2 linked regions of the Homo sapiens genome follow. The protein of the gene in region 2 binds, or shares a complex with, the protein of the main gene of each other region. Each region holds a gene or a part of one and is shown on either strand. Other genes may lie near its edges.

What was found.
Region 1: AKAP13 (region 2) and MAP2K3 share a complex: the UniProt entries of both Homo sapiens proteins name them as parts of the signaling complex.

What each region holds. Positions count from the first base shown.
Region 1 is NC_000017.11:21,278,340-21,288,755, reverse strand, and holds the start of MAP2K3 (dual specificity mitogen-activated protein kinase kinase 3), read right to left. Parts: upstream 4,046-10,416; 5' UTR 3,836-4,045; coding exon 3,787-3,835; coding exon of another isoform or gene 3,430-3,786; intron 721-3,429; exon of another isoform or gene 665-720; intron 1-664. UniProt on the Homo sapiens protein: Dual specificity kinase. Is activated by cytokines and environmental stress in vivo. Catalyzes the concomitant phosphorylation of a threonine and a tyrosine residue in the MAP kinase p38.
Region 2 is NC_000015.10:85,738,957-85,748,786, forward strand, and holds part of AKAP13 (A-kinase anchor protein 13), read left to right. Parts: intron 1-1,265; coding exon 1,266-1,316; intron 1,317-2,089; coding exon 2,090-2,539; intron 2,540-4,535; coding exon 4,536-4,869; intron 4,870-5,671; coding exon 5,672-5,721; 3' UTR 5,722-9,830. UniProt on the Homo sapiens protein: Scaffold protein that plays an important role in assembling signaling complexes downstream of several types of G protein-coupled receptors.

The sequences.
Region 1 (10,416 bases), on a different chromosome or scaffold from region 2:
GACACTTAGCAAGTGTGGAATGGAACTGTCTACATCCAGACAAGCAGGGTCCCCATTCTCAGTCTGCAGATGAGGAAATGGAAGCTTCTCCTCTGAGAGCTGGGCCATGCCCAGGGGACAGAAATCATTTACAGAGTGCAGAGAGTGGACCAGATGCAACTTGTCCCACGTCACATCGCAAAAGGGACAGAGCTGGGGTTTGGACCCAGGCAGTCAGGCTCTGGAAACTGAGGTCTTAGCCTCTCCACATCACCATCTTCCAGGAGCTCAGGCCGGGTCCCACCCCAGCCGACCCTGCACCACCTCTGCTCCTCACCCTCCCTGAGTCCCAGCTGCACAGCTGAACCTGAGGTGTCCCCTGGGCCAAGGGTGGTAAACAGTCACTGCCACCTGCTCCTGCTCTGTGAGCAAGAGGAAGCAGAGCCCCTTGCCTAATAGAGGAAGTTCCTGGGTGGGGCACAGAGGGCCTGCCCAGGGGTTCCCAGCCCAGTCCGAGGCCCAGGAAGGGGCCACCTCCAGTGCCCCAGCTCAGGGCTAGGTGCCACCTGCAGGACACGTAACCCCCTCCCCACCCACCAGGCTGGCAGGCATCGCCCCTTTAAGCTGTAGGCAGCCGGCTGGCATGCCCAGCGGGTGAGTCAGCACCCAGTGCCCGCTGACTCACCGCCGGAAGCCTCCGCTGCCCCGGCCTTCTCCTCACACGGGCCAACTGAGAACTTTGCTCCCTTTGGGCGCTGGGCCATGGGTTGGCTGACAGAGAGTTTCCTGTGCGTCACAAGAGGGGTGGGGGAAGTCCCCGAGGTGCCACCTCCAGTCTTTCCGACAGCCAGGGGTTGGGGGGGTGGCCACAGCAGGCAGGGCTAGGATACAACAGTGCTCTATGAAACCTCAGTGTCACCATCGGGCAGTCAGGAGTCCTACAGCCACAGTCCAAGCTGTGTGAAGATTAGCCATGAAGTGCTCCCACAGGTGGCACTCTTAGGGCAGAAGGGGCAGAACCCATGTTCTGAACGACAACAGGACACGTGTGGTACCCTCCAAGGACAAATGTGGCTTGCACACATGCCCCCACCCACTGGCCCCAGCGCCAGCCACTTGGCCTCTAACCCCAGCCAGAGATGGCCATGTGGGCAAGGAGGCCAGGGGAAAACCAGCAGAGCTGTGGGCCTGAGGGCCTCACACACTCATAGAAAACTCCCCAGGCCCATGGCATGGAAACAGTGCAGGGCACCTGCTGCCAGGCAGGAAGCTCAAAGGTAAAGCTCCAGTAAGGTCAAGCGCCAGCCACTCCCTGCTTTGTTCAAATTCCTTTGAGAAGGTGGAGAAGGGATCAGTGCTGGGAGGCCCAGTGCCCAGGATGGGGTGGGCACAGAGTGAGGCTCTCCACCTATGGGGGCAGTCCGGCCACTCCTCCATCCAAGCTGAGTTCTGCATCTGTCAAATGAGTGGGATTTTGCAGCGAGAATGCAACAGGCCCAGTGTAAAGCGCTGTGCACAGGAGAGGCATCACCTCTGCCTCAGTCTGTCCTCTAGGTCTGACGTGGCCATGAGGACAGGCCCACTGCACATGCTCTGAGCAAGGCCAGGGGTGGGGGCACCCCACCAGCTCAGCTCAGGCATCCAGCATGGGAGGGGCACATAGGGGAGCACGGGGAAGGCCACTGTGGAAACACAGTCCTAGGGGGAACCCTAGCTCCGCCTGTCACAGCTGTGTGGCCTCAGGCAAGGCACTTAACGCCTCAGTTTCCTTATCAGTAAATGGGGCTATGAGGAATAAATGAGAAAATGCATGGCACATGGAAAAAAAGAAGGAGCTCATAGGGTTTTTGGTGAAGGGCATTGTGGCTCTGCCACCACATCCTTCCCCAGACCCCAAAGAGACTACAGAGTCCCTGGGCCTGAGGGAGGTCCCTGACCCTCCATCCAGCCCCCTCAACCTCATCTAGGACCTGGGTCCACATCTAGAAGTTCATTTTGGCCCTCTCACAGCATTCTCACTGCATCTATGACCCCTCTCCTTTCACAACTCTGCAACTGGAACTTTTATTTTGATGAGGCATTCTCTGCCTGGAGAGCTAAAAAGCCTCCAAAACAAACAGTGCTTCCTACCCTTCCCCGAGCTCTCCAGAGTGGAGAAGTGTCTGATTTCCTGGTTCCCAAGCTCCACGAGGTCTGTGCAGTGCAAGTCCCTCCCCAGACACCTCCCCCGTCGAGTGCCTCCCGAGTTACTCACAGTGGTTGGGCAATGGTCAGGGATCCGGCCTCCCACTTATGTAAGGCATAATTATCCAGCCCACCCGGCTCCAGCCACCATAGCAGCCAGCAGCAGGGGCCAGGAAGAGCCCATGCCCTCCCCAGGCCCACATAGGGCTCCCATTGGCCTGCACCCTCCAGAACAGAAGAGCGGCTGACCCCTGATGAAGTGCCCACTAGGTGCCCGCTGCTAGGTGCTTCCTCCTGCTCACTCTGAGGCTGCACTTCCAGCAGTGGAGGCCTTTCCAGCAAGAAGAATGGAAACAATAGCGAGATGTGTGCAGCCAGTGTACCCTGGTGAGCACCGGCTCTGCGCCAGGTGCTACGCTGAGAGAACGCCTCAGAGCTCTTTACTATTCACCACCCCACACCACACTCCCACGTCCACAGAAGCAGGTGCGATTACTTCCAATTTACAGAAAAGGAAACTGAGGCCCAGAGACACCAGGGAGCTTGCTGGGGTGAAGCAGCTGCAGGTTCAGAAAGCCAGGAGGCAGCCCATTCATTACGGCTATGTCCGGTTTGGAAATCTCTCGCACAACCCAGCCTACTGAAACTCCGACGCACCAAAAACATCCTTTCCTCTTCCTGAAAAAAAAAAAATTCCCCTTTTGCCCTCCGAGTTTCATCCTTCCCCCTCCGCATGACAAATCCTGCTGCTGCCACCTCACAAAAATTTCCAGGAAGGCCAGCTACTTGGAGAAGAGCAAATCCCTTGCACAGCCAGCACCCTGGCCTGGCGGCTGGCCCAGATCCCAGGCAGCCAGGACAAGAATAAGATGGGGTGAGAACCCCCAGTGCAGGGAGAAGCTTGCAACTCAAGACAGAGAGAGGCCGGTAGAGAGGGGGCTGTACCTTAGGGAGGGGTGGGAGGACAAGGAAGGTTCCTGGGAGCCCAGGGCTGCAGGACAGGGTGCAGGCCAGCCAGGGAAGGGGCAACATAGGGCCTATAAGGATAAGAAGAGCTGGGGGAGAGAAGGACGGGGAGTTCCGAGCTGGGGTGTAGCCAGAGCACCCGCATAGGGGGTACAGTGAGGTCCGCAACAACAGGAGCACTCTGGGGCCCAGATGGAGACTCAAGTTAAATCCCAACCTGGATACAGCCCTGGGACCCGAAGCTAGAAATGGGACTGGGTGCTGCCCAAGGACCCAGGTGAAGGCCAGTGTGAATCTCACCTGGGTCCCGCTGAGGGAGAAGACTGGGAGAGTTCATGTCCAGGCTGCAGCCATAAGGCCCAAATGAGGTCAGAATGAGGCTCCTGACTTGGATGGGGTGAGCAGAACAAAGTCCTAGTCTGGGTCCAGCCTGGGTGATCTCGGGCCTGAGTGCAGTCCCAAGGCCTAACGTGGGGGTCCAGGTGAGGGCCCAGGCGGGGGCTGGTCCCGGGACCCCGAACAGGAAGGGGTTCCGGGACCGGACGCCGCTGCCAGGTCGAGAACAGGATGGGGTGGGACCAAAGAAAGGTCGGGGTTTGCAGCCCGGCCCCAGATTAGGCGCGGGGTCAGGCCGAGGTCCCGGCCGGGAGCGCCTACCTTTGGACTGGGGCATGCTGGCGGGCTGGCTCGAGGCGGGCGACTCCATGCTGCAAGTGGGTCCTGGACGGCGGTGGAGACTAATCTAGAGGACTGCGGGCTCCACCGGGGCCGAGCACGCTCATGGCTGCGGGCAGACGGCCCAGGCCAGGCGGAGGAGCAGCGGCGGCGGCGGCGGCGGCGGCGGCGACTGCGGCGAGGACTGCGGCGGCGACTGCAGCAAGGACGAGTCCGCGACGGGCGGCGCCGGAGACAGACTGGGCAGCGCCGGGGAGACCCCGGCCGAACTGCGCTGACTCAGGCCCCGCCCCTGCGTGCCCGATTGGTCCTTTCGTTTCCAAGGCCCGTCCTCTGCCTATCAGACGCCGGCCTGTCCCTGCCTGTCAAGCACACGCCCCACCCTCCTTAGGCCCAGGATCCGGGCCCCTCCCGCTCTCTGTCAAGTCCGCCAGCCGCCCGAAAAACCCAGGTCCGGTCAGGCTCCGCCCCCTGGACTAAAGCCGCGCCCCTCGCGCTGCCCGTCAACATGCAAGCCCCACCCACTCCCGGGACCCACTGAGCCCGCTGCTCCCTGCAGGCGCCCAGGCCCAGCCCGGCACCCCCAGACCCGCAGCCCCGGCGGGTGCGATGCGCGGGCGCGTTCTCCTGGGTGCGTCGTCTGGAAAAAACCCGAGATCCCTAAAGGTGGCACGGCTGGGCCTGCCGAAGTGGGCGGGGGTTAAAAGTGCGCTGCTGGGCTGCCTCCTGGCTCTCTGAACCTGCAGCTGCCTCACCCTAGCAAGCTCCCTAGTGTCTCTGGGCCTCAGTTTCCTTTTCTGTAAATTGGACCCGGGTTCGGATCCGAGTCGGCAGCTTTGTAGCGGAACTAGCCTTGGTCAGGTGGTGACACCTGAGCCTCAGTCTACGCATCTGTGAGCGGGCGGCGGTGACAGCTATCTCCCGGCGCTGCTCGCTAACACGCACTGAGGGCCTGGCGCCAGCAAACGTCGCCCGCGCCCGCGCTCCAGGCGCCCGGCCAGGGCGCGGGGTCGGTGGTGAGCTCAGCGATGCCCGGTGACGAGGCAGCACGAGGAGTTTTCGTGGCTGGTTACTGCTGCCCCTGTTCTACACAGGGGGAAACCGTGTCTCAGAGGGAGTGAGGCGGCATGCGGTGCATTTTATCCCGCGAGCCCCGAGGCCCCATCCTGGCTCTCTCCTGGACCTTCGTTCTCTCCTCTCCTCCTAGGATCTCAGTCTGCCCATCTGCATAATGGCTGGATGGGCCAGTCCTCCCTCTGCTCCCACACGGAACCTCGGGGGATTTCAGGAACCGCTGACCAATCTGGCGCTGGGAACAGATGACTCTGGATGTAAAGCCAGGGCTAGTGAAGGCAGAATGTACCAGGCAAAGGTCAAGGGGTCAGCCCCTGGCCTCCAGGCAGACATGTGTACCCTGTCAGGGACCTCACGTGAGGGAAGCAGATTCCACCACCTGCTAGAAAGGCTTGAGGCCGGGCCTGACCTCTGCTTGCCCAGGTGTAAAGTGGGGGTGATGCAGGGCCCCATGCACAGAGTGGGGAGCCACAGGAGATAAGAGGGAAGCCTTGCAGCCATCACCATTCTCTTCCTGCGTCTCCTGTTCACCCTTCCCAGGCAGTGGGATGGAAAATCATGAGTCTGGGGCTCAGATAGGTATGGGTTCCAATACCAATTCCTCCACTTACTAGCTGGATGACCTTAAAGAAGTCACTGAGCAGCTCTGTGCCTCAGTTTACCTATCCCATGGGGACAATAAGGTCTCTGAAAGCGTTTCATGAGTTCAGGAGTGGAAACACCTGGCCTAGGGCTTGGCACTCACTAGGTGCCCAGGAAATGTGAGTTTGAAAACACTGTGGGCTGCCTCCATCCTTGCCATATCATCCCTGGTGACCTGTGCTTATCCGTCTGTAAAATGGGCATCCAGGAGCAGCTTCCTTTCTACCAGAACTGCAAGGCTAGTCCAGCGAGTTTTCTGGGTTCAGGCACTGGCCAACAGCCTTGACTTCTGCACAAGGCCACACTCCGCCTTGTGCACTCTGCTTCTTGGGATGTTCAAGAGTCTCAGTATTGCCCCTCAAATGTGCCAGGGATGGTCCTGCCGCAGCAGCTTCACCCTTGCTGCTCCTGCCCAGAACATTCTTCCACTCAAGCCTCCTGGGGCTGGTTCCCTCTCATCCCTCAGACCGCTTCCTAAATGAACACCCCTAAGAGGCCTTCTCATCATGGTCCCCAGACTGAGGCACAACACTTATGCTGCTGATGTCTTTGTTACTGACTCAGTTTTTAACACAGCTCTCCCTCCAGACCATCCGAGCCTCATTCCCTGCTGTGTTCCCAATGCATAGCCCAGAACCAGGCACATAGTAGGTGCCTGATAAATATTTGAGGAATGAAAAAAGGAAGGAGGAAAGCATCCACAGACCAGGGTGAAGCGACTCCAGTCCCGTGCCAACCTCCTTGGCGGCCAGATGACTCAGACAGGCCCTCGCATACAAGGAGTTTGGGGATTAGTCAGGAGCCCGATAAACAGCTCAGGAATCACAAAACTCCATGTGAGTGCTATAAATAGATGCATGAGCAAAAGTCCCAGGAGGGTGCCTGGGTGATGCAGCCATCTCCATCTGGGTGGGGACAAGGAAGGCCTCTCAGAGGAGGTGATTTTGAGACTGGACTTTTAAGGACCAGTAGGAGCTTACCAGGCAGAGAAGCAAGAAGAGCATCCCTGGAAAGGAACAGCAGAGGCAATGGGTTGGAGATGTAAAAAGGGCCACACATGAGGACCAGGTGAGGGCCAGACTGGGATGCACAGCTGCACCACTGGAGCTCAAGAAGTACCATCAAGAACCATCAGAGACAAAGGTCTCTTGCTGGCTTGCTATAGTGACATCTCTTGATTTCTTTCTGTCTGTAAGTGGCACAGTCAGATTGGGGAACTCCATGACCATGCAGAAAGCAGAATAAATGTTTGACATGGGTCACAAGAGGCTGCCTCTTACCTTGATTCCTAGGAGAAAAGTCCCAAACCTGCTCTCTGTGGATGCAGGAAACTGAGTCTCTGGATGGGAAGGATTGTGGCCAAAGTCAGGATGCAAGCATGATCTGAGGTGGGCAGGACCTGGGGTGACAGAAGGCTGTAAAGAGAGGCTGACTCAATAGCATTAACTATAAGTTTTGTGCTTCCAAATCACTTTTTGGTTTTTAAGAATTTCTTGATACTATTGTAGCCTGCCTTCGATTTTGATCCTTTATTCTTTCTATTTGTCAGGTGCACAAGATTACCTTCCTTTTTTAGCCTTCTGTCTTGTCACCAACCATTCCTACTTGGTGGCCATGTACTTGGAAAAAGGCCGCATGATCTTTCTGGCTCCAATCAATGTCTAAGGCACCCTGCTTCCTTTGCTTGCATCCCACAGACTATTTCCCTCATCCTATTTACTACAGCAAATCTCTCCTTAGTCGATGAGATTGTGTTTATCTCCCTTTAAAACCCTACCTATCCTGAATGGTCTGTCATTGTCTGCCTTTAAAATCCTTCCTCTTTCTTCTTCCTCTATTCTTTAAATAATGATGGGGCTAAGTTATACCCAAAGCATCACTTTACAAAATATTTCCTCGGTACTTTGCAGAAAACACCAAACAAAAATGCCATTTTAAAAGAGGTGTATTTTTTCTTTTAAAATGTAAGCTCCTCAAGGGCAGGGAAATGTTTTCTGTATGTTCTATTGTGCCTAGTACACTGTAAATGCTCAATAAATACTGATGATGGGGGAAAAAAAAGAGAGAGGCTGACCCAAACCCAGGATGTGGGCAGCTCCTTCATTCATTCAACAGATATTCATTGAGCACTTACTGTGTGACTGGCACTGAGAACACAACATTGAACAAGATGGACACAACTCCCTGGGGAGGTATGACCTGGTGTGTGAGCCAGACAAGCAAAATGCCTAAGTCAAATTATGTCAGGCCAGGCATGGTGGCTCACACTTATAGTCCCAGCAGTTTGGGAGGCCGAGGCAGGTGGATCGTTTGAGCCCAGCAGTTTGAGACCAGCCTGGGCAACATGGCAAAACCTCGTCTCTACAAAAAAAAAAAAAAAAAAAAGTTGGCTGGGTATGGTGGCATGCTGCTCAGGAGGCTGAGGTGGGAGGATCACTTGAACCCAGGAGGTCAAGGCTGCAGTGAGCCAAGGTTATACCACTGCACTCCAGCCTGGCGGGCAACAAGACCCTGTCTCAAAAAACAAAAAATTATTACAAATGCTATGGGGGAAAGTAGGGGAGGGGACAGGGTGTGTGTCTGGACATGGGGGCTATAATTTTAAGGAGGGAGGTCAGGAAAAGCCTCCCTGGAAGGTGCCACATAAACAGAGACCAAAGGACTTAACGGAAGGACCCACAAAGAGATCCGGGGGAAAAGCATTCCAGGCAGAGGGAACAGTTGTGCAAGGGCCCTGAGGTGGATGGCTTGTAGGCGAGTAACAAGGAGACCGATGTGGCTGGGTGGTGGGAGCTGAGGAGTCCCTGTTCTCACCTATATACACCCCCTTGGACGTACTCACTCCCACGTGCCCCTTCACACCTGTGCAAGTCCACACACCCCAAATACACATGCACACACACATGACACAAGGGGGTGCACAAGTGTGTACGTTCATGTGGAGGGACCACATGGTCACGTCCACAGACACAACCCACAGGCACAGCGGTGCACATGGTCTATGCATAGCCTTGCCACCAGCTGGGGCCTCCACTGCTTGCTGCCCCACAGCGCCCTCTGGTGACCAGGGCCCGGCAGTGCTCTAGAGTGCCCAGGAGCACAGGATCCACTGCCCTCACTGCTTTGACGGCCATCCAGCCTCCTCTTCTCTGTGCTGCCTGCCCCCAGGCCTTCCACACTGCAGCCAGAGCCTTCCCAAACACGGCTGGCCAAGTTCTAAGTCCTGCCCTGGCTCCCTAGGCGGGCAACTTCCAACACTCCAACCCCTGGTGACTTCTCCAGACATCCCCCAGTCCAGCCACTCTGAATTCAAGCTTTCCTCTTTGAACCTTTCTTTGCAAAGGCTGTTCCCTTAGCCAGGAATGCCCTTCCCTACCTTCCGACCTGACACATTCCCTCCGCTCCTTCGAGGCCCAATTCTGAAGGTGGGACAGGAGGCCCTGCCTGACACTGCTCTGCCCAGTGCCCCTGCCCCAGCCCCTCTCACCATGGCTCACCCGCCCTGTCAGTGGCTGCGCCCCTGTCTGCCTCTCCCATACGACTCCTGCTGCTTGAAAGCAGGGCCTGTGACTGGTTCTCCCCAGAACAGCATCAGGCCATGCTGGTGATGGTGGAAAAGTGAAAACTTGAGAAGCTTGGAGGCAGCAATATGTGGTTCCTGAGCATCTTTTACTCAGGGGCCGGTTCTGAAGTCGAAATATAGAGAAGGAAACCTCAACGGAGGCTCACCTGCTTTCTTTAAATCATCATCACTCTCAAATATCAAAAGATGAATTCACACAAGTGACTGGCTCCACTAGCAAAACAGCAAGTCCTATTTTTACAGCTCCTACTATGTGCTAGTCCCTCCAAGCACAGCATCTTATGGACTCACTGTGATGCAAGCTGCACGGGGGCAATGCCTTTGCTTTGGTCACTGCAGTGTCTCCGGCACACAGTAGGTGCTCAGTGAATACTTGCGGAGTGGAGGAAAGTTTTCAATGTCCCAACGAGGTGTCTAGTATTATCATCATCTCCACTAAAGAGATGAGAAAATCGAGGCTCAGAGAGGTGCCCAGAAGCATCCAATACCGCTGGTAATGGCAGAGCTATTGTTTGAAATCTGTTCTGTCAGATGGAGATAGTTTTCCCTGCCTTTTCCTGCCCACACTTCCACTAAAGTGTTTTGCAACACCCTGCTTCCGAGCAAAACAAACTCCCCTTGAGCTCCCTTCACTGCTTTCTGGAAAGCCACCAGCTCTGCTTCTAACAGAGCAGTTGAGTCTGGCCTGCCCGGTTCCCTGCAGGGTTGCACGAACAACCCTGTGGCTGTCCCCAACACCAGTCCAGGGGTCCAAGGAGCCTCAGCATGGTGTCTCCCTGCCCAGGGTTCTCAAACTTAGCACTTCCTGCCCAGCAGGCAGGAGGCAGTCAAGGGGACAACACTTACTGGCACCTGTTGCATGCCAGGCCTCGTGACTTGACACACATCCCAGGGAAGTGGGTGTGGTTAGACTTTCATCTTACAGATGAAGAAACAGAAGCCCAAGGCTTCAAGCGCTTGCCCAGGTTCCACCACCAGGAAGGATGACACCAGATTTTTAACCCAGACCATCACTGTAACAGCCTACTGTGTGTCAGCCTTTTTAGTTCAATCCTGTGCTTCATTATCTAGATGCCAAGACCACAGGGCTGTTCTTATTGCCCCATGATGGGTGAGAAGTACTGCAGACACAGAGATGAAGCAACTTGCCCGTGAGATCACACAACCAGGGAGAAGAGAGGCAAAAGCGTCCCAATGGGGCTGACTCCACAACACGGGTGCATCCAGCATATCTGCCTTCAAAGTGCTGTTTTCTAATCTAGGCCAGGAAGTAGCCAAGTAACCGTGAACCAATGAGTTGTCTCAGCCAGGCC
Region 2 (9,830 bases):
GCAATACTTCGTAGAGCTTCATATCTTGCTTTTTTTCCTCTTAATATGCATTAAAAACATTTCCCCAAGGCATGTTTTTACAAAGCATGCTGTTGCACAGCTTCATCTTATTGTGTACCATAATTTACTTAGTCTTTGTGATAGTTAACCGTTTTTCTACGTTTTGCTTTTAAAGCAGTGAGCCAAGAAAATCTTTGTACATACATTGTTTTTTCACAGCTCTCTGATTATTTCCCGAGTATGCCAAAATGCTTTTGAAAGGAGGTTTTGCAGTGCTTGGTACTACCCATTAGACATACAAATGCTCATTTTCATCTTTTACCAACATTGAGTATTATCATTCTTATTAAGTTTTTGTTCGTTTGATAAGTTTGGGTCATTTATTTTATTTTGCATTTATTTGATTTCAAATAAGGTTGAGTAATTTTTAATATGTTATGCTATTGGCCATTTATATTTCTAATGTAAATTGCTGGTTTGTGTTCCTGGCCTATTTTTCTACTAGGGTATTTTTTTTGTCATAATGTTCTATGAGAGCCTTTTTTAAATGAAAGATTTTTCCATTTGAATTTCTATTAGTTCTTTGCCTTTTAATTTTAATTTTACATTTTTACATAGAAATTTTTGAAAAAAATCTTCTGGTTTCTTCCATTACTTCTGTGTTTGCAAAGCCTTCCCTGTTTCAAGATTAGAAAACAGTTCTAGTTCCTTCCAGCTCTTTTTTTTTCTTTTTGAAATAGGATCTCGCTGTCTTGCCCTGGCTGGACATAAATATGGTTTATTTTTTGCCTTTAACATTTTCAGATATTTGAACCTTTTTTTGTGTGTGAGCTAAGATCTCAACTCAATTTTTTTCAGAAATTTAGCCAATTTTCTCAGAACAATTAATTGAATATTCTTTCCATTAATTTGAAATGCTATTTACATGCTAAATTGTTATGAGAAGTTTCTGGAATTTCTGTTCTGTTGCGTTGATATGTATGCTGTTTTTATTCTAGTCATTTTAAGTAATGGAAGCTTTCTATTACATTTTAACTTGTGCTGATGTTCCTCCTATACATAGGTCACTGTGGTCTTCGTTTGTTTTTCTTGGCTGCTGGTGCTCACTTAGTTTCTTTGGTGCTTTCAATTTGAAAATATTTCATAAAGATATAAGCATTTAGTTGTATCTTAAAGGAGCCATCTTATCAGGTAAACATTAGTGTGATGGATTCTGAGATTCATAAAGCCCTGAAACGAATGTTTCCATTTTGTTCCTTTGGCAGCAGGTTGTCCAGAGCGTTGTTCATCTCTACGAGCTCCTCAGCGCTCTGCAGGTGCGTGCCTTCATCTTCCATCCCTGCGTTTATTTGTCTAGAGAACAGCAGCTTGGGGCTGTTGTTGACTTGGATCTTTGAGGTTTGCAGGATGTTTAATGGATAAATGGGGCCCTCAGTCTAGGGAAGACTGGCTCTCGTGGTGAGAAAGTTACAGAATGCATCGACCTTCCAGGACTAGAATTAGTGAAGAGCTGGTGTGCCGTAGGCATGGCTTGATAACCATGCTACAAATCACATAGCATGCTAACATGCATCTGGGAGATTACTTCACTTTAGAAAGCCTTAAGTATGATTATAAGTTTCTATATTCCGTATCTCTGTGGTATTTGAATAGAGTGGCCTTCCTAATACAGCTTCTGTTTCGGACTTCCCAGGAACATCCTCAAATTCTGCTCACTTCCTTTCTTGAAGATCTAACCTGTCTCGTTCCTACTTTCTCCCACTTCCAACACACACACACACAACCCACCCACCCACACAGACACACACACACACAACCACCCCCCCCCCCACCCCAGGTAATACCACTGACTGCAAACAGCATGCAACCAGATTGACAAAAACCCGTGAGTTCCTGCACCTTTGAGGTTCTTGTATGATAAACAGCTGCAATTATCCTGGAGCATTTTTATGAGACGGGCTTGAAAAATGAGGGGAGAGTTCTAGTCCGTCATAGTGCCTGGTGCCCCCTGCTGTGGGGTCGGGAGGGATCCAGAAGCTCGCTGTCGTCCTGGCCAGAGTTGCAGGGCTCCCCTCTGTGTGCCTCCCAGGGTGTGGTGCTGCAGCAGGACAGCTACATTGAGGACCAGAAACTGGTGCTGAGCGAGAGGGCGCTCACTCGCAGCTTGTCCCGCCCGAGCTCCCTCATTGAGCAGGAGAAGCAGCGCAGCCTGGAGAAGCAGCGCCAGGACCTGGCCAACCTGCAGAAGCAGCAGGCCCAGTACCTCGAGGAGAAGCGCAGGCGCGAGCGTGAGTGGGAAGCTCGTGAGAGGGAGCTGCGGGAGCGGGAGGCCCTCCTGGCCCAGCGCGAGGAGGAGGTGCAGCAGGGGCAGCAGGACCTGGAAAAGGAGCGGGAGGAGCTCCAGCAGAAGAAGGGCACATACCAGTATGACCTGGAGCGACTGCGTGCTGCCCAGAAACAGCTTGAGAGGGAACAGGAGCAGCTGCGCCGGGAGGCAGAGCGGCTCAGCCAGCGGCAGACAGAACGGGACCTGTGTCAGGTAATGGGACTCCCTGCCGAGAGCAACCTAATGATGATATTAATTAAGACCCCCTGTGTATTAAGCAAGGTAAGAAAGTGAGCAGAAATATAGAGCCTGTTTTTGGCCAGATGCTCATGCCTGTGATCCCAGCACTTTAGGAGGCTGAGGTGAGAGGGTAGCTTGACCAGCCTGGGCAACAGAGGGAGACTCTGTCTCTCCTAAAAAAAAAAAAAAAAAAACAAACAAACAAACAAAAAAAAAAAACAGTTTTTAAGAATCTTTGTAGCTGGACACAATGGCTCACACCTATAAATCCCAGCACCTTGGGAGGCCGAGGCAGGTGGATCTCTTGAGGCCAGGAGTTTGAGACCAGCCTGGTCAACATGGCGAAACGGCGTCTCTACTAAAAATACAGAAATTAGCTGGGTGTGGTGGCAGGCGCCTATAATCCCAGCTGCTTGGGAGTCTGAGGCATGAGAATCGCTTGAACCGGGGAGGTGGGGATTGCAGCGAGCCGAGATCTCGCCACTGCACTCCAGCCTGAGCAACTCCGTCTCAAAAAAACACACACAGAAAAACAAAAAGAATCTTTGTTTTACCCCGAAAGAGAGGCAGAGGCAGAAAGTCTTCTTCTGCTTTTTGCATCTCTAAGAGGCTGAAAAAGAGAATGGAAGTGCTGGGGCATTTTGGCCAGGGCAGTAATGGATATTTGGAGTTGGCACTTCCCTCAGCTAGAGGAGTCTCAGTGTGTCTGAGAAAATGGCAGTCAGCCATCCAGGATTTTAGGAGCAACGCCACTGCTCTGTGCCACATCAGAAATCAGGCATGGCCCCAACCTGAAGGAACTTGTAGCTTAATGGGGAAGCACACCAAGAATAAAAGAGCCTCCAGAACATGTGGTGCCTGTGGTCCTGAGACAGCAGGAAATGGCTCTCAGGCCAGAGTTGCTGGAAGAACCCATGTGGCAGGATCGGTGGGAGGCAGTTACAGAGGGAAACGCCCATCCCAGCAACTAGGGGAGGCCGCCACTCCTCTCGTGGATGGATGATATTCTTGCTTGGGGATGTTGAGACAGCTGCACTCTGCATAGTTCCTGATTTGCCTCTCTACTGCTGATGAAAAACCTCTCTTTCTCTATAGCTGCTGCTTATATTGGAAGGCTTTTGGTTATTCAGCACACTCACTCCTGAGCTTATTTCAGTGATATTCCTTGGTTATTTCGAAACATGGATGCTTGTGGCAGATGGAGAGCCTGGGTGTACACAGATCTGCCTGTGTTTTGAAATGCATACCATGTTGCCGTTTGTTTGATTGATTGATCTTGGACCACGAAAGAAAATTATACTGACAGCTTCCAGGGTAGGGGGCAGTTGTAGCTTTCTGCAGATGTTGCCAAATATATTGGGGGTGGGGAGCAGCAAATGCCATGTGTTGCTTTTTATGACATAAGGAGGGATTCCACCCCCATCCCAATAAAATCGGTGCTTTGACAAAGGAGGGTTCCCAGGCAGCTAAGAGAACCCAGAGTAGATGATCCTCTTTATCTCTGGTTTAACCTGTGACTAGGATTCTTGGTGTAAGCTCGGCTTTTCCACTTATCCTCTAACCGGAACAGGCTTCTATAATCTCTTTGCCTTAAAATAATTATCTGCATCCCTGTGTAGAGCAATCTTAAGCAGCTCTCCTTGTTTCTTCAGGGAATGGGAATTCTTTTCTAAGTCGCCCCATCAAAGGTACTATTGGTTTTTTACAACGCCGGCGTTTGTGTATGTAGTAAAAGTATTAACAGCATTAAAGGCGATATTTTTAACATGTTTATAGATACTACTTGGGGGAGGGCAGCTAATGAAACCTTCAAGCTCTATGCAGTCCACAGACGTGAGCTCTGTAGAGTTCGCAGAGGTGGGTAAGTACCCAGCCAGCACACCCAGTTGAATTCAGCCAGGATTTATTGAGTTGGCATCACGGACGCTGACAGCCTCCAAGTGAAAACCCTTCTCTTGAATATGTACAGGTTTCCCATCCACATACCAAGCTGATGAGGATCCCATCGTTCTTCCCCAGTCCTGAGGAGCCCCCCTCGCCATCTGCACCTTCCATAGCCAAATCAGGGTCATTGGACTCAGAACTTTCAGTGTCCCCAAAAAGGAACAGCATCTCTCGGACACACAAAGATAAGGGGCCTTTTCACATACTGAGTTCAACCAGCCAGACAAACAAAGGACCAGAAGGGCAGAGCCAGGCCCCTGCGTCCACCTCTGCCTCTACCCGCCTGTTTGGGTTAACAAAGCCAAAGGAAAAGAAGGAGAAAAAAAAGAAGAACAAAACCAGCCGCTCTCAGCCCGGTGGTGAGTCACGCACACCTGCTCTCCCTGTGGCCATAGTGTCTGTGCATTCTGAGAGAGGGTAGATTTTAGTGGCATGGGGCGGGGTTGAAAAGGGGACAGTTCAGATGCTCAAAAGCCAAACTGCCATCCTTTTCACCAGCTCCGCTTGCTAAGAGCACTCATGCAGCGAACATTAAGAACCCACTCTGTGTGGCACGTGTGCAGAAGCAGAGAGCATGGGTTTCATTTTCAAGGCATTATCCGATCGAGGAACTGGAGCTCACCCCTCAATGAAGTAATTCAAGTCCTCCTTGCCTTTCTGGGCCTAGAGTAGTCATTGGTAACAGCTAGCATTTGGTGATTTAACCCTCAAATGACTGTATGAAGTTGGCACTGCTAACCCCAAGAGAAGTGAGGAAACTGAGGCTCACAGAGGCTAACTAATGTGCCAGCGGCCACAGAGCCTGCGGCTGAATTCCACTAAATGCCTCCCTGTTCATGTACCACTTTTTCCCCTGAATCCTTCTCTTTAGGATTGATCTCTCCTTTCTGTGTGGGAGGTTAAAGAAAAAGTACATTTTCCTGGCCTCTTCATAAATTCTAGTGATTATTTAAAAGTTAAAGGGAGCATTAGGCAGTGAAGGATATCACTTAAGAACCTTATTAACCAAATTTGTTCAGAAACCCCGGTGCGCAGAAGAGTTAATTGCCCATAAGCCCCAGTCGCCTGTTTGCATTACAGAAGACTTTGGGATGGGGAGGAAGTTCAATGAAAGGAGCAGTTTTTCTGAATTTTTTTCATTCTTGGTTTTCACATTTCCAGATGGTCCCGCGTCAGAAGTATCAGCAGAGGGTGAAGAGATCTTCTGCTGACCCTCTTCCTCTCTGCTGAGGCAGCTGCCTCCTGATCCTGGCCAGCCCACCTCTCCTGCTGTCCCCGCGTGCACAAGTCTCTTACACTGGACGCCCACTGCTCCTCAGCGTCCAGTCCTCCTGGGCGGCCCCAGGTCCTGGACAATAAGCAACAGATGATATTGAGTGTCGGGTGGGGAAGGAGGCCCAGACTCTGCTTCGGCCATGATTTGTGACTGCCCAGGACTCTCAGGTTGGGCTGGCCCTACTCAGGATTACACTGAAAGTAATGGCCTCGTAAGTACAGGTGATGGTTTTGGACACGTCAGGAATTCCTAAAGGCTGAAAGAGTGTATCCAAGTAAGGTCTGAACCTCCGAATGCCTTTTATTTGGGGGAACACAAAACCAAACAGCAGATGTTTTGGACTTGATCTGTGTACGTACATGGGGACCTGTCTGCATATACACACGGGGAATGCCAGAAGAAGGCCCAGTCTGCACCAGGCGTCTGGTCAACTTAGCACAAGGGCAGTGCCTGGACGGACCCGGAGCCCCCGCATATCAGCAGTTCACCCAGTACTCCTCAGAGACTGGTTTCCCTCTAAACCCATCCCGGGCACATACCACCCGTGTTTTGCATGTATTTCTCATTTCATTTTAGGGATGACAAACATTTGTGAAACCAGTGAGAGAAGGCTTGATGTGTATAAAAGACGTGATGTGCACCACCTCGATCTCGGTGTTTCAGGCACTAAAGCAACAAAACAACCCATAGTATCTCATTCTGTCATCAGATCCAGAAGAAATATCCTGGTTTTCCAGCATGTTTACCCACATGTTTTGGCCATGGATAAAGTGAAGAGGCCTACTCACCATTATCCCTGCAGCGTGACACCTTTTGATTGTCACTGACCACTCAGAAGGGGCCACGGCCTCCTGGCTGTGTTCCTGAGCCCCCGTCGTGCCTCTCCCAGACAGCAGCTGTCTGGCCCTTGCTGGGTGAGGGCACACCACTGCCAGGGGTCAGCCTCGCACCCAGGCCAGGCAGAAGCTGTGCTCTGAAGCTAGGACAGCTGGCTGAGAAGTGGGTTCAGGCGAAGGGTGAAGCCATGTGTAGCAGTTCCTGCCAGTGCAGATCTGGAGAGGAGCTGGCCCGGAAGGCGTGGTTGTGAAAGCGCCCTTCTTATGTTAGGAGGCCTTGGCAAAATTGGATTTCTTCAAAAATACATGTAAAGGTCTGTTGTTGAATTGTACTCTGCCCCTGGAAGCAGATACAGATGGCTGCCTGCTGCTCGGCTTTGCTTTTGCTTTTCCCACCGTGTTTTCATCTTTGTTCACTTGAGGCTTTCCCCAGCTGGTGTGTGCAGGACAGTTCATGGTAATGTTGCCCTCTGAGGCCCCGTACACCAGAAGGGAGGCCCTGGAAAATTTTGTGCTTCCAACGTGGCCTTCAATTCTTGCTTTTTTGCCCCTCGGAAGCATGGGGCTTTTGAGCACACTTAAAAAAAGAAAAATCTGTAACTTGGTGCTTATTGATGAATTGCAAGCTGGCCTTGCAGATGGAGATATTTATCTTTCAGTTTATTTGAAAGAGGTCTGGTTTAAAATTTGTAGCCTACATTTGTTTTATTTATTGTATTTGTGTGTTTGTGTTTGTTTTTTTTTAAGGGTGAGCCAGGTCTAGCCCAACAGTCTAAACTATCCAGTCAATACCGAGTGAAGTGGCAGCCAGCACTGTTCACTCTGTGTCTTTTGAAGTGCCTTGAAGGCCCAGATGAAATTTTAAAGGGAGGGGGTCCATGTCCTTCCCTCCCCCACCCCGCCTCATTCTTTAATCAAAGGATGTCTTCTCCCTTGTTTGAGAATGAAGAAACTCGCCACCTCTGACCTACCTTTGCCTTTTTCTGTCATGGAGAATACTCACCCTTCAGAAACAGACCAAAGGCCAAAACCTGCTGATTTTTCTATTGAAAATATGTCCCCTTGCAAAGACCCTAAACAAAAAGTTAAGTTTCTTTCTTTCACCTATTTGTACAACTCCAAGTTACAGCTGAATCTGTCGTGACTTTCCTGAGATCTACCCGGGGCTTGGCTGTCTGTTCTGGGCACTGGCTCCGAGTTCCCCTCCTGGGATTTGCAGGAGGGCAGTACTGAACCTGCATTCTTCTCCTTGTAAATGTAGGCCGGGTGCCCCTGTTCTCCGGGTTTGGAACAATACGAGGTTGGTGCTGATGGGATTTACTTGCGTACGTGCTCTTCACAAAAACACCGTGGATGCTGAAGTTAGAGCACGTCGCCACAGAGCTTGACATCAATGTTAGAGGGTCTCTTACTCCCCGCCCAGCTGTGATGTTTCATCTGCTTTGGTTGTTTTGGTGGTCTTTTTTAAAAATAGAGATTTCACATCTGCCCAGACCCCACTCAAAACGATTTGGTCAGGTTCTGGTTGGACAAGTTTAAAATCAAAGTAGTGCCCGGAATTCCCTCAAACCACCCAACTTCATCCAGGAATACAGTCTGCAGTGCAGCAACAGAACCGCTTACCAAGAACTGTGCTTACATACCTTTGTCATCTCTCTTCCCCCCTTGGAAGTTGTCCTCAGGGGGATTTGTTCCTGTCCTGGGGATTTACCTGGGATGGTGGCTGCCTGTGCTTTTGCTCATGGCCTTGACAGTGCTCTAGTTGCTGGATCTAATGGCCTGTCTTGGTTTCTATCACATGAGAAGGGGTTGTTTTTTTGGGGTGACTCGGACTGAATTCCCCATACTGTTTCCACGCCGGGACACCATGTTCTCCATCAAGCTAAAGAAATCACGTGCCTGAAACTGTGCTTAAGTTTTGGGGGAAAGATGGAGTTCCTATCCAGAGCCCCCAGATTTCCAGAATCGAGTGAGCTTCCTGGAAGGAGACTGCGTCTTCTCTCAATTCCAGTCATCTCAGTCGTTGTCGTTAGGTGACATGTGCACTTTAAATGCTCTCATCGGTTGGCTTCATTTTCAAGACAATCAAATGTATTGACTGTGTTTTCTTCTTAGAAAATGGAGAGGGTTAAAAACATGCAAACTGCCACTTTCAACCTTTGCCAGTATTCCCTCTACCCCCGTGAGAGCTATCTGGGGGGAAGAATCCTTACCAAGGTTTTTTTGGAAAGGTACGAATCTTAACTTTTTTCCCCTTCTGTGTCTCAGGGTAATACTATTCAGAGTCGCCCCTTTGCTCATTTTCTCCCGTATTTGTTACCTTCCTGAGGCCTCAGTATTAGTCGTGAGCACAAAGTTTTGAGACCTTTGGCGTTGTTTCTTGATGTGGGAGGGGAGGTGTTAGTGCATGCAAGGGTTGAACTAGATAGACCCTGCCTTAGTAGAGGGTGGGACTATAACCTTAGAGGCCAGAACTTGATCCAGAAGTTGCTGTCCACAGAAGTGCTTTCTATTTCATCATTTTTGTTTCTAGGGCTCTTTTTCTGTAGCCAGGTCTTCCCAAGGATTTTAGTATTTGCATTGGAGTTGAGGTTTACTCTAATGATGGTGGCCCAGCTGTGCCCAGAGGACAGCCAGGCAGGCCCTGGGAGGGAGTTTAGAAAGACAGTCCTGGTGAATGGGCTTCAAGTGGTCACAAAGAGGGTGGCTGTGAGGTGACCCCAGACACTGCAGAACGATGTGCACCCTCTGCGTTTTGGATGTCCTTGGAATGTGGGAGCCTAGAAATAACCCTGTGGATGGAATTGGGGCAGCGGCTGCTGGAGATCTGTGTGCCTTGCCTTCCTTCAGCAGGACCGTCTAGGTGCGCAGCCACCTATGGATGCGTCCCAGCCAGCCCCGTCGCTCTCGTCCATCCTCAGAGACAAAGAAGAGGGCAGGGAGTTTGGGCTTGGTTTTGAACTTTCCTTTCAATGTAGCAAAGCATTCCTAGTTAACCAGAGCCTTGGAATCTACTGCCTGCTGGCCAGGCTTTAAAATGAAAAGTGTTTTAATGCTGCCATAAAAGGGAGGCGGGGGGGAGGAAGGGAAAATAAAGGCATCTTTCCAAGTACTCATCTAATTTAATTGTCAAAAGATTGATAGGCCATGAATTACTTCTCCATCTCACTAAGGGTTAAAGGCGTGCAACCCCCCACTGGCTGTGTCC